Linked DNA regions of Homo sapiens: all the other regions are linked to region 4. Evidence: fine-mapped QTL for protein levels in blood plasma. A gene starts in region 4. Each other region holds a variant in brackets. All regions are shown on one strand. Distances are between the middles of the regions. Region 1 overlaps CD200R1 (CD200 receptor 1). Region 2 has its middle 6.6 kb from the start of CD200R1L. Region 3 overlaps CD200R1 (CD200 receptor 1). Region 4 holds the start of CD200R1 (CD200 receptor 1).

The links. PIP is the posterior inclusion probability: the model's chance that the variant is causal. The UK Biobank Pharma Proteomics Project read protein levels with antibody pairs (Olink). The fine-mapping took linkage between variants from a reference panel, not from the people measured, so its PIPs are less certain.
Region 1: its variant is fine-mapped to the plasma level of the CD200R1 protein (UK Biobank, PIP above 0.99). The variant lies in the coding sequence of CD200R1. If it changes the protein, the assay may bind it differently, which can mimic a change of level.
Region 2: its variant is fine-mapped to the plasma level of the CD200R1 protein (UK Biobank, PIP above 0.99).
Region 3: its variant is fine-mapped to the plasma level of the CD200R1 protein (UK Biobank, PIP 0.99).

Annotation. Positions count from the first base shown.
Region 1 is chr3:112,927,716-112,930,325 of GRCh38, forward strand. CD200R1 (CD200 receptor 1) reads right to left here. Exons shown (of 8, transcript NM_138806.4): 4 at 1,475-1,792; 5 at 1,101-1,349. Among named protein-coding and RNA genes, the nearest start is that of CD200R1, 46 kb to the right of the region's middle. The variant T/C (reference allele first, on the strand shown) is at 1,221.
Region 2 is chr3:112,852,184-112,854,793 of GRCh38, forward strand. No RefSeq gene overlaps it. Among named protein-coding and RNA genes, the nearest start is that of CD200R1L, 6.6 kb to the left of the region's middle. The variant C/T (reference allele first, on the strand shown) is at 1,216.
Region 3 is chr3:112,962,720-112,965,329 of GRCh38, forward strand. The region is part of intron 1 of CD200R1 (CD200 receptor 1); the gene reads right to left. Among named protein-coding and RNA genes, the nearest start is that of CD200R1, 11 kb to the right of the region's middle. The variant C/T (reference allele first, on the strand shown) is at 1,079.
Region 4 is chr3:112,974,009-112,976,618 of GRCh38, forward strand. CD200R1 (CD200 receptor 1) reads right to left here and starts at 1,095. Exons shown (of 8, transcript NM_138806.4): 1 at 783-1,095. The coding sequence starts at 849.

The DNA of each region.
Region 1 (2,610 bases), 46 kb before region 4:
AAAACTCAAGAAGGAATGACTTTGAGAAAAAATAGAACTAACAGATTACCTAATAAATCTGACCATGTAGAAAATATTACTAAGGGGTTCTCTAGTTTTGTCAATAGGCTTAGTGATAGTTCACGATAGGTACATACATTCTTAAGGAAACAAAAAAGGTAAAGCACTTATGAAGTCCAAGGAAAAAAAGTCATTTGAAAGAGAAAGCATGAGTGTATTTCTTGATTCAGCACTTAACAGTACTTAAATATTCAAATTGATGGGAACATAGGCTATTTAATGAAAAATTGCATTACCTCAACTAAAGTTTGAAGGAAAGGAAGAAGGTAATGTGAAATCCTCATCTACCATAAGAAGTTGTGATTACATAATGTCTAAATTTGATACAGTAAGAAATAGCAGTATGAGCATGTTGTATAAAAATGGCACTAATTACCAGAAGAAACACTGGAAAATTTGAAAGTACCTACCTGTGGGGAGTTTAATGGAGATGGCAATTGGGTTGGAAAGACAGGGGTAGAGCTAATGTTTTTCAGGAAGCCTTACAGAACAATTGCACTTTAAATATGTTTGTTGATATTTAATAGTTTTTAAATAACAAGAAATGAGAGTAGGATGAGAGCAGAGAGTAAATAAACTAAACAGTGATTAAATGAATCATAGATGTTATTATAAGACATTTAAGAAATTCAATGATGAAAAGTCCAGAAAACAAAATTACAACAAACTAAAAATTCATAAAAGCAACTTTGAGTAAATGTATCCTTCTAATAGAACCATAATTACATGCTTCAAAGTATACTTTATCTTTCAATAAGCCATAAGTATTATTTTTAAAAGTATACTACTCATGCTAATTAACTACTAGCATAGAAGTGAACATTAATAGTAGAATTAAACTGCATTCTAAAAAAGGGCTTTTTACAACAAATGTCTGTACTATTCTCCTCAACTCATCTCTTTATTTTGGTCAGGGAAGAGATAAAAATGAAGAGTGGGGAGAGCATCCTCGAACAAAATATATTTGCACATCTTTTTTTTTCTTAACTCTTTTAAAAGAATGGAAAAAAATAAAAAATAAAACTAAAAGAATTACTGACCAGGAAGTAGCTCTATGTACAGACTCTTGTTGCCAGTCAAATGGGAGACGTGGCAGGTCACGGTAGACACATTGTGGACCTCCCAGTGGCATGTACTCTTAACAGTCACTGTGCCATTGC[T/C]CCAGTATTCTTGCTTAGTGGCACAATCGCCCTCTGGGATCCAGGAGATATGCGCAGCTGGCTTCCCTGCAACTGCCTTGCATACTGCAGTTCTATTCCTGTTTTGAAACAGGGTCACTTCAGGTGTAACTGCAGAGAGGAAAGAGGGAAAAAAATGCTTCGGTTTTCACATAAAGCATATGGAATTCAGAGAGACATTTGTTTCCGTCACAAATCTGGTGATGTGAAATACCTCAATATATGATGCTCCTTACCTAACACTTGGAGGTGATATCCACGATGGAAATTCCCATCAGGTGTTACCATTATGCATCTGTAATACCCGTCATGAGTGATGGCCACGGTACGAATCTGAAGGTCCGAATTCTGATCAGGTCTGGAGACCCAGGTTATTCTCTCATCAGTACAGTTGGTTTCCTTGGTCTCATTTGTTTCTTTCTTGTAGGCTTTTGTGCAGGAAGGCTGGCCTCTCAGGATTATTTCCCATGTTATTATGATCAAATTTCTTAATGCGATAGGAGGGCAACAAAGCACAGCATTTGTAGCCATCTTTACAGGCCATGAAGTGTTAACTGGACATGAAAAGAGAATGATAAAAGAAAAGCTTGATAAAGAACTTCATGTGTTACATTTATCCACAACATATGAAGTTACACTAGAACATAACTTTGTTGGTGATCTTATTCCAAAAATATTAGACCTTCATAAAAAATTAAAATTCTCAAAATATAAATAATATATTGAACCCAATCTAGAGATTAACCAATTTTCTCCTGTATTATGTATTATTAGAAATATGATATATAATAAAGTATTTTTTATATTAATGGAGAAGTTTTAATATCTAGAAACAAAGAGAATTGTAAATTAAACAACAAAGGCAATGTTCTACATCTAATCTTTAGGTGGTGGAGACTATTGCCTTTATCATACAATGTATGTGCCACAGGAAAGAAAATGGAACAATTAGTGATGTGGCTGTCTCCTCCTCAGCTTTGGTGAGCACAAAAAAGTCTATCTCTAAGGTTTTTGTTTCAGACAAACATAAATGTGGTATGTATTAATATATAGTGCTTTCTTTTAAAGTAACTAATATGGCATTTGGGTTGAACTAGCTAGAAATTTTTTTAAGTTCTTTTTTTTAAAAAGAATCACAAAGTCAGTGAAACCCACAGATCTTTAAAAAAAAAAAAACTATTATTCCACCAGTTGAGCCATCCCATAAAAATGAAAAATGATAATGCCCTGTGATAAGAGATGCTTAGAAATATTTATTTCTTGTGAAAATATAGTGTGATATATAATTTTTAAAAAACGATTTATTTCCCTTTAGACATTTTTTATTAAAAATATTTTATTGCAAATTTATGACATTATCAAATGTAGCCTT
Region 2 (2,610 bases), 120 kb before region 4:
ATGACATTAGGGTAAATAATGAAATTACAGTGGAAATCAGGATGTTCTTTGAAACTAATGAGAACAAAACTACAACATACTAGAATCTCTGGGACACAGCTAAGGCAGAGTTAAGAGGGAAATTTATAGCACTAAATGCCCACATCACAAAGTTAGAAAGATCTCAATTTTAAAAATGAGCATTACAACTAAAAGAACTAGAGAAGCAGGAGCAAACCAACCCCAAAGCTAGCATAAGACAAGAAATAACCAAAACCAGAGCTGAACTGAAAATAGCCTTGGAGACACAAAAAATTGCAATCAAAAAGGACAAAAGGAATATTACCACTGACCCCATAGAAATACAAATAACCATCAGAGATGACTATGCACACCTCTACGCACACAAACTAGAAAATCTAGAAGAAATGGATAAATTCCTGGACACATACACCCACCCAAGACTGAACCAGGAAGAAAAGGAATTCCCAAACGGACCAATGACAAGCTTTGAAATTAAATCAGTAATAAGTAGCCTACAAAACAGGAAAAGCCCTGGACTGGATGAATTCAAAGCCAAATTCTACCCCATGTAACAAAACAGAGCTGGTACCATTCCTACTGAAATTATTCTAAAACATTGAGGAGGAGGGACTCCTCTCTAGCTTATTCTATGAGGCCAGCATCATCCTGATGCCAAAATCTGGCAGACAGAATGGAAAAACAGAAAAAGAAAACTTCAGGCCAATATCCTTGATGAACATAAATGCAAAAATCTCCAACAAAATACTAGCATACCAAATACAGCAGCACAATAAAAAGCTAATCCACCATGATCAAGTAGGCTTTATCCCTGGGATGCAAGGTGTGTTCAACATACAGTAAACAATAAACACGATTCATTACATAAGCAGAACTAATTACAAAAGCCACATGATCATCTCAATAGATACAGAAAAGGCTTTTGATAAAATTTAACATTGCTTTATGTTAAAAACTCTGAAGAAATTAGGTATTGAAGGAACATACTCAAAATAATAAGAGTCATCTATGACTAACCCGCAGCCAACATCATACCAACTGGGCAAAAGCTGGTAGCATTTCCCTTGAAAACCGGCACAAAATAAGGATGCCCTCTCTTACCACTCCTATTCAACATAACACTGGAAGTCCTGGCCAAAGCAATCAGGCAAGAGAAAGAAATAGGCTGGGCGCAGTGGCTCACACCTGTAATCC[C/T]GGCACTTTGGGAGGCCGAGGCGGGCAGATCACGAGGTCAGGAGATCGAGACCATCCTGGCTAACATGGTGAAACCCCGTCTCTACTAAAAATACAAAAAAAAAAATTAGCTGGGCACGGTGGCAGGCGCCTGCAGTCCCAGCTACTTGGGAGGCTGAGGCAGGAGAATGGCGTGAACCCGGGAGGCAGAGCTTGCAGTGAGCCGAGATCATGCCACTGCACTCCAGGCTGGGCAACAGAGCGAGACTCCATCTCAAAAAAAAAAAAAGACATCTAAATAGGAAGAGAGGAAGTTAATCTATCCCTATTTGTAGATGACATTATTCTATATTTAGAAAACCCCCCAGTCTCAGCCCAAAAGACCCTTAAGCTGACAAACAACTGATAAACAGCAAAGTTTCAGGATATGAAAATTACTAGTATTTCTATATAGTAACAACAGCCAATCCAAGAGCCATATCAGAAATGTGATCCCATTCACAATTGCCACAAAAGAATAAAATACCTAGGAATGCAGCTACCCAGGGAGGTGAAAGATCTCTGCAATGAGAGTTCCAAAATACCAGTCAAAGAAAATGGAGATGACACAAACAAATGGAAAAACATTCCATGCTCATGGATAAGAGCATGGATAATAATCAGTATTATTATAATGACTATACTGCCCAAAGCAATTTATAGATTAAATGATCTTTCTATAAAATTACCAATAACATTCTTCACTGAACTAGAAAAAACTATTTTGAAATTCATATGGAACCAAAACAGAACCCAAATACACAAGGCAATCCTAAGAAAAAAGAACAATACAGTAGACATCATGCTACCTGACTTCAAACTATACCACAAGACTACAGTAATGAAAGCAGCATGGTACTGGTATAAAAACAGACACATAGACCAATGGAACAAAATAGAGAACCCAGAAATAAGACCGCTCATCTATAACCATCTGATCTTTGACAAAGCTGCCAAAAACAAGCAATGGGGAAAGGACTCTACTCAATAAATGGTGCTGAGATAACTGACTAGCCATAAGCAAAAGATTGAAAGTGGACCTCTTCCTTACACCATATACAAAAATCAACTCAAGATGGAATAAAGACTTAAATGTAAAAACCGAAACCATAAAAAACCTTGGAAGACAACCTAGGTAATACCATTCTGGACATAGGAACTGGCAATGATTTCATGACAAACACACCAACAGCAATTGCAACAAAACCAAAAATTGACAGATGGGATCTATTTAAACTTAAGAGCTTCTGCACAGCAAAAGAAACTATCAACAGAGTAAACAGATGACCCACAGAATGGAAGAAAATATTTTCAAACTATGCATTCGACAAAGGTCTAATATCCAGCATCTATAAGGTATTTCAATCAACAAGCAAA
Region 3 (2,610 bases), 11 kb before region 4:
AGCCAGATATAACCCATGAGCTGCCAAATTGCAGTCTCTGATGTTAGAGAAAAGGCCAAAACTAGAGCCTTGAAAACATTTATAATTAGAGATCTCTTGGAGGCATTGCACTTTACAAAAACAGTGAAGAAAAGTAGGATATAAATGCAATGCCACAAAGCCAAGTGATATGGTTTGGCTGTGTCCCCACCCAAATCTCATCTTGAATTCCCATGTGTTGTGGGAGGGACCTAGTAGGAGGCACTTGAATCATGGGGGCAGGTCTTTCCCATGCTGTTCTCATGATAGTGATTAAGTCTCACAAGATCTGACGGTTTTAAAAACAGGAGTTTCCTGCACAAGCTCTCTTCTCTTGTCTGCTGCCATGTAAGATGTGCCTTTCACCTTCCACCATTATTGTGAGGCCTTCCCAGTCACATAGAACTCTAAGTCCATTAAAACTCTTTCTTTTGTAAATTGCCCAGTCTCAAGTATGTCTTTATCAGAAGTGTGAAAACAGACTAATACAGCAAATTGGTACCAGAAGAGTGGGGCACTGCTGAAAAGATACCCAAAAATGTTGAACTGACTTTGGAGGGTAGCAGGTAGAGGTTGGAACAGTTTGGAGGGCTCAGAAGAAGAAAGGAAAATGTGGGAAAGTTAGGAACATCCTAGAGACTTGTTGAATGGCTTTGGCCAAAATGCTGATAATGATACGGACAATGAAATCCAGGCTTAGGTGGTCTCAGATGGGGATGAGGATCTTGTTGGGAACTGGAGCAAAGGTGACTCTTGTTATGTTTTAACAAAGATACTGCCAGCATTTTGCTCCTGCCCTAGAGATGTGTGGAACTTTGAACTTGAGAGAGATGATTTAGGGTATCTGGTAGAAGAAATTTCTAAGCAGCAAAGTATTCAAGATGCGACTTGGGTGCTGTTAAAGGCATTCAGTTTTATAAGTGAAGCAGAGCACAAAAGTTGATAAAATTTGCAGCCTGACAGTGTCATAGAAAAAAAAAATCCCACTTTCTGAGGAGAAATTCAAGCCAGCTGCAGAAATTTGCCTAGGTAACAAGGAGCTGAATGTTAATCCCCAAGA[C/T]AAGGTGGAAAATGTCTCCAGGGCATGTCAGAGGCCTTCACAGCAGCCCCTCCCATCACAGGCCTGGAGGGTTAGGAGAAAAAAATGGTTTTGTGGGCCAGGTCAGGAGTCCATATGCTGTGTGCAGCCTAGGGACTTGGTTCCCTGTGTGCCAGCTGCTCCAGCCATGGCTGAAAGGGGCCAACATACAGCTCAGGCCATGGCTTCAGAGGGTGCAAGCCTCAAGCTGTGGCAGCTTCCATGTGGTGTTGAGCCTGCCAGTGCATGGAAGTCAAGAATGGGGGTTTGGGAACCTCTGCCTAGATTTCAGAGGATGTACAGTAATACCTGGATGTCCAGGCAGAAGTTTGCTGCAGGGGCAGGACTCTCATGGAGAACCTCTGCTAGGGCAGTATGGAATGGAAATGTGGGGTTGGAGCCCCCACACAGAGTCCCTACTGAGGCACTGCCTAGTGGAGCTGTGAGAAGAGGGCCACCATACTCCAGACCCCAGAATGGTAGATCCATTGACAACTTGCACTCTGCCCCTGTAAAGGTCACAGACACTCAATGCCAGCTCATGAAAGCAGCCAGGAGGGTGGCTGTACCCTGCAAAGCCACAGGGGCAGAGCTACCCAAGACCATGGGGACCCTCCTCTTGCATCAGCATGACCTGGATGTGAGACATGGAATCAAAGGAGGTCATTTTGGAGCTTTAAGATTTGACTGCCCTGCTGGATTTTGGACTTGCATGGGGCCTGTAGCCCCTTTGTTTTGACCAATTTCTCCCATTTGGAATGACTGTATTTCACAATGCCTGTACCCCCATTGTATCTAGGAAGTAACTAACTTGCTTTTGATTTTACAGGCTCATAGGCAGAAGAGACTTGCCTTGTCTCTGATGTGACTTTAAACTGTGGACTTTTGAGTTAATGCTGAAATGAATCAAGACTTTGGGGAACTGTTGGGAAGGGATGATTGGTCTTGAAATGTGAGGACATGAGATTTGGGAGGGTCCAGGGGCAGAATGATATGGTTTGGCTGTGTCCACATCCAAATCTCATCTTAAATTCCCACGTGTTGTGGGAGGTATTTGAACCATGGGGGCAGGTCTTTCCCATGCTGTTCTTGTGATAGTGAATAAATCTCATGAGATCTGATGGTTTTAAAAATGGGAGTTTCCCTGCACAAGCTCTCTTCTCTTGTCTGCAGCCATGTGAGATGTGCCTTTCACCTTCTACCATTATTATAAGACCTTCCCAGCCATGTGGAACTGTAAGTCCATTAAACCTCTTTCTTTTGTAAATTGCCCAGTTTCAGGTATGTCTTTATCAGCAGTGTGAAAATGGACTATTATACCAAGTAAAGAGGAGGTTTCAAGACAGGAAGAATCAAGATTAAATCATATGCAGAACAGTCTTAACCTAAGAATTAAGAAGCTTTGTGATTTGGTAACAAGAAGATCATCAGTGACCTTAAGATCTGAAAGAGAGTAAGTTTAACAAAGAAGTACAAGTGGAAACCAGATTGAAAGGGGCTGATCAGAGGTAATG
Region 4 (2,610 bases):
TGTAACTGTAGGCATATTATATTTTTGAAGTGCCTAATCATCGAAAGTGACAGAAAGCAATAAACTGTCCTAATCTATGCCACTGGCAATGTGGACCTAAATGAGTTAGCGTTCTTATCTTAAAAAAAAAAATTAAGAGAGAAGAGGCTGGGTGCAGTGGCTCATGCCTGTAATCCCAATGCTTTGGGAGTCTGAGGTGGGAGAATTGCTTGAAGACAGGAGCTCAAGACCAGCATGGACAATATAGCAAGACTCTATCTCTACCAAAAATTTTAAAAATTAGCCAAGCATAGTGGCGCATATCTGTAGTCCTAGACACTCAGGAGGCTGAGTGGGAGGACTGCTTGAGACCTGGAGTTACAGGCTGCAGTGAGCTACGATTGCACCACTGCACTCCAGCCTGGGCAACAGAGCAAGACCCTGTCTCAAAAAAGGGGGTTGGGGAAGAGAATAAGATAAAGAGAACCTAACTGACTTTGATTGCTGCTAGTATGTATTTGATTTATCCTGCCTTGTTCAAAAAACAGGAGGAAATAAGGAAATGGACAGTAAGACAAATTATAGAGATCTGTATATTGTAGTAGGATACAAAGTACAACAAGCAAGACACCGGAAAAAAGGATAATAAAGTAAACTAGATATGGGAGTAACCCATATTTAGCAACCCCCTATATTTATTATTGCAATTGATTTGTATTGCCCCAGAAGAAAGACAAAAAATAAACTCAGGAAGAGCTGAGACCAGGTTTCTCACTGTTCTCCCAAAGAGAATTCAAACTTACCGGCCACTAAGAAGATAGTCAAAATCAACAGTAGCCCTAGGTTAGCAGTTCTCCAAGGGCAGAGCATTTCTGTTTTCTCTTTTTCTGCCCTTCACTCAGTACTTTTCCTCCACACAGGTACAGAAGGAACTGTGCGCATGGTGAGACCCTCTCTGGTCAACTTCTCAGTACAGGATCCTCTTACCCCATCAACAGTGGGGCACTCCCTTCCTTCTAGCCCCTTCCTTCACGTCTATGTGGTTTAGCCTGGTTAGTAACTTGGACGAACAGAAGCTTTTCTCTGGAACTTGACACAGCAATAGATTTCCTGTATGAAGCCCTGAAGCAAAGACGGAGGAAGCAGATTGATTGAATTATCTCTCAGCTCATTGGTTCTCCTCTCACTTCTGCTGTACACAGACAAACTTTACAGTAAGGCATTGAACGTGTCCAAGATAAACAGATTTGTCTAAACTTGCACCAAAAAGTAAAACAGAATATTGATCTACTTTGGCCCATCCTTGTAAATTTCCCAATTATGATGACTTTTAGAGGCTTTCTCCAGGTTGAAGAGCTTTACGGCCTTAGTATTTGAGTCTGGAATACAATATGTTTTCTTGAAAATTATTGTGTGAAATTCCTGTCTATAATGGGAGTCAACACACAACCCTGTAAACATCATATGTGTATTAGTTTCCTATTGCTACTGTAAGAAATTACCACAAACTCAGTGGCTTAACACAACACAACATTTATTATCTTACAGTTCTGGTGATCAGAAGTCTGAAATGGATCTTAGGGGACTAAAATCAAGGTGTTGGAAGGGCTGCACTCCATCTGGAGGCTCGGGCAGAATTTGCTCCCTGCCTTTTCCAGCGATTTGAGAATGCCTGCATTTCTTGGCTTGCAGCTACATCATTCGGACCTCTGGTCCACTGTCACATCTTCTCTGACTGTGACCCTTATGCCTCCCTTTTATAAAGACCTTGTGATTATTTTTGGTCCACCCAAATAATCCAACATGATCTAATTTCAAGATCTTAATTTAATCACATCTGCAAAGTCCTTTTTGCCACACAAGGTAACATTCACAGGTTTCGGTAATTCGGACATAGGTATCTACCTTGTTGGGGGTGAGGGCATTCTGTTTATCAGAACTCAGTACTTATTGCCATTCAGTTTCACCTTTGGAAAATTAGACTGATCATTTTAACCAAATTACAAATAATCACCCATCTCTTAGTTGCCACACATCTGGAATTCAGACTCCCCCTAACCAAAAAAAAAAAACAACAACAACAACAAAAAAACCTCTTCCTTACTGTTGCTAGTTACTATGTTACTATGCTTTTAAGTTATGTCTGAGAGAGGGAAAAATCTTCTATGTGCTGAGAATTTTCTGCCCCAAGGCAAAACTGTACAGGAAGGGGAAGAAAACATTGCAAACAGGAAAAAGATTAAACAGCATGCATTTTTTTTCTCAGTTAGCAGTTTCATCTTCCTTCTTGCCAAACATTATAAATATTTCCCCCCTTCCCCTTCTCAAGCTTTTTTTTCCAGTTAATTAATTTGATGAAGACAGTGAAACCAGATCCTTGAGGGCATGGAACACTTAAGGGTATGAGCTGTGACAATGGGAAGACCAAAACAAAAATGTCTTCTCTTCTGTCTAATGTTTCACCAGGTGTCGGAAAATTAGTGAGAATACATCATTTAAAATACAGATAATATTCTGGTTTTCCACTACATAGAAGTGAAAGTTGGCCGGGAGTAGTGGCTCATGTCTGTAATCTTAGGACACTGGGAGGCCGAGGCGGGCAGATTGCCTGAGCTCAGGAGTTCGAGACCA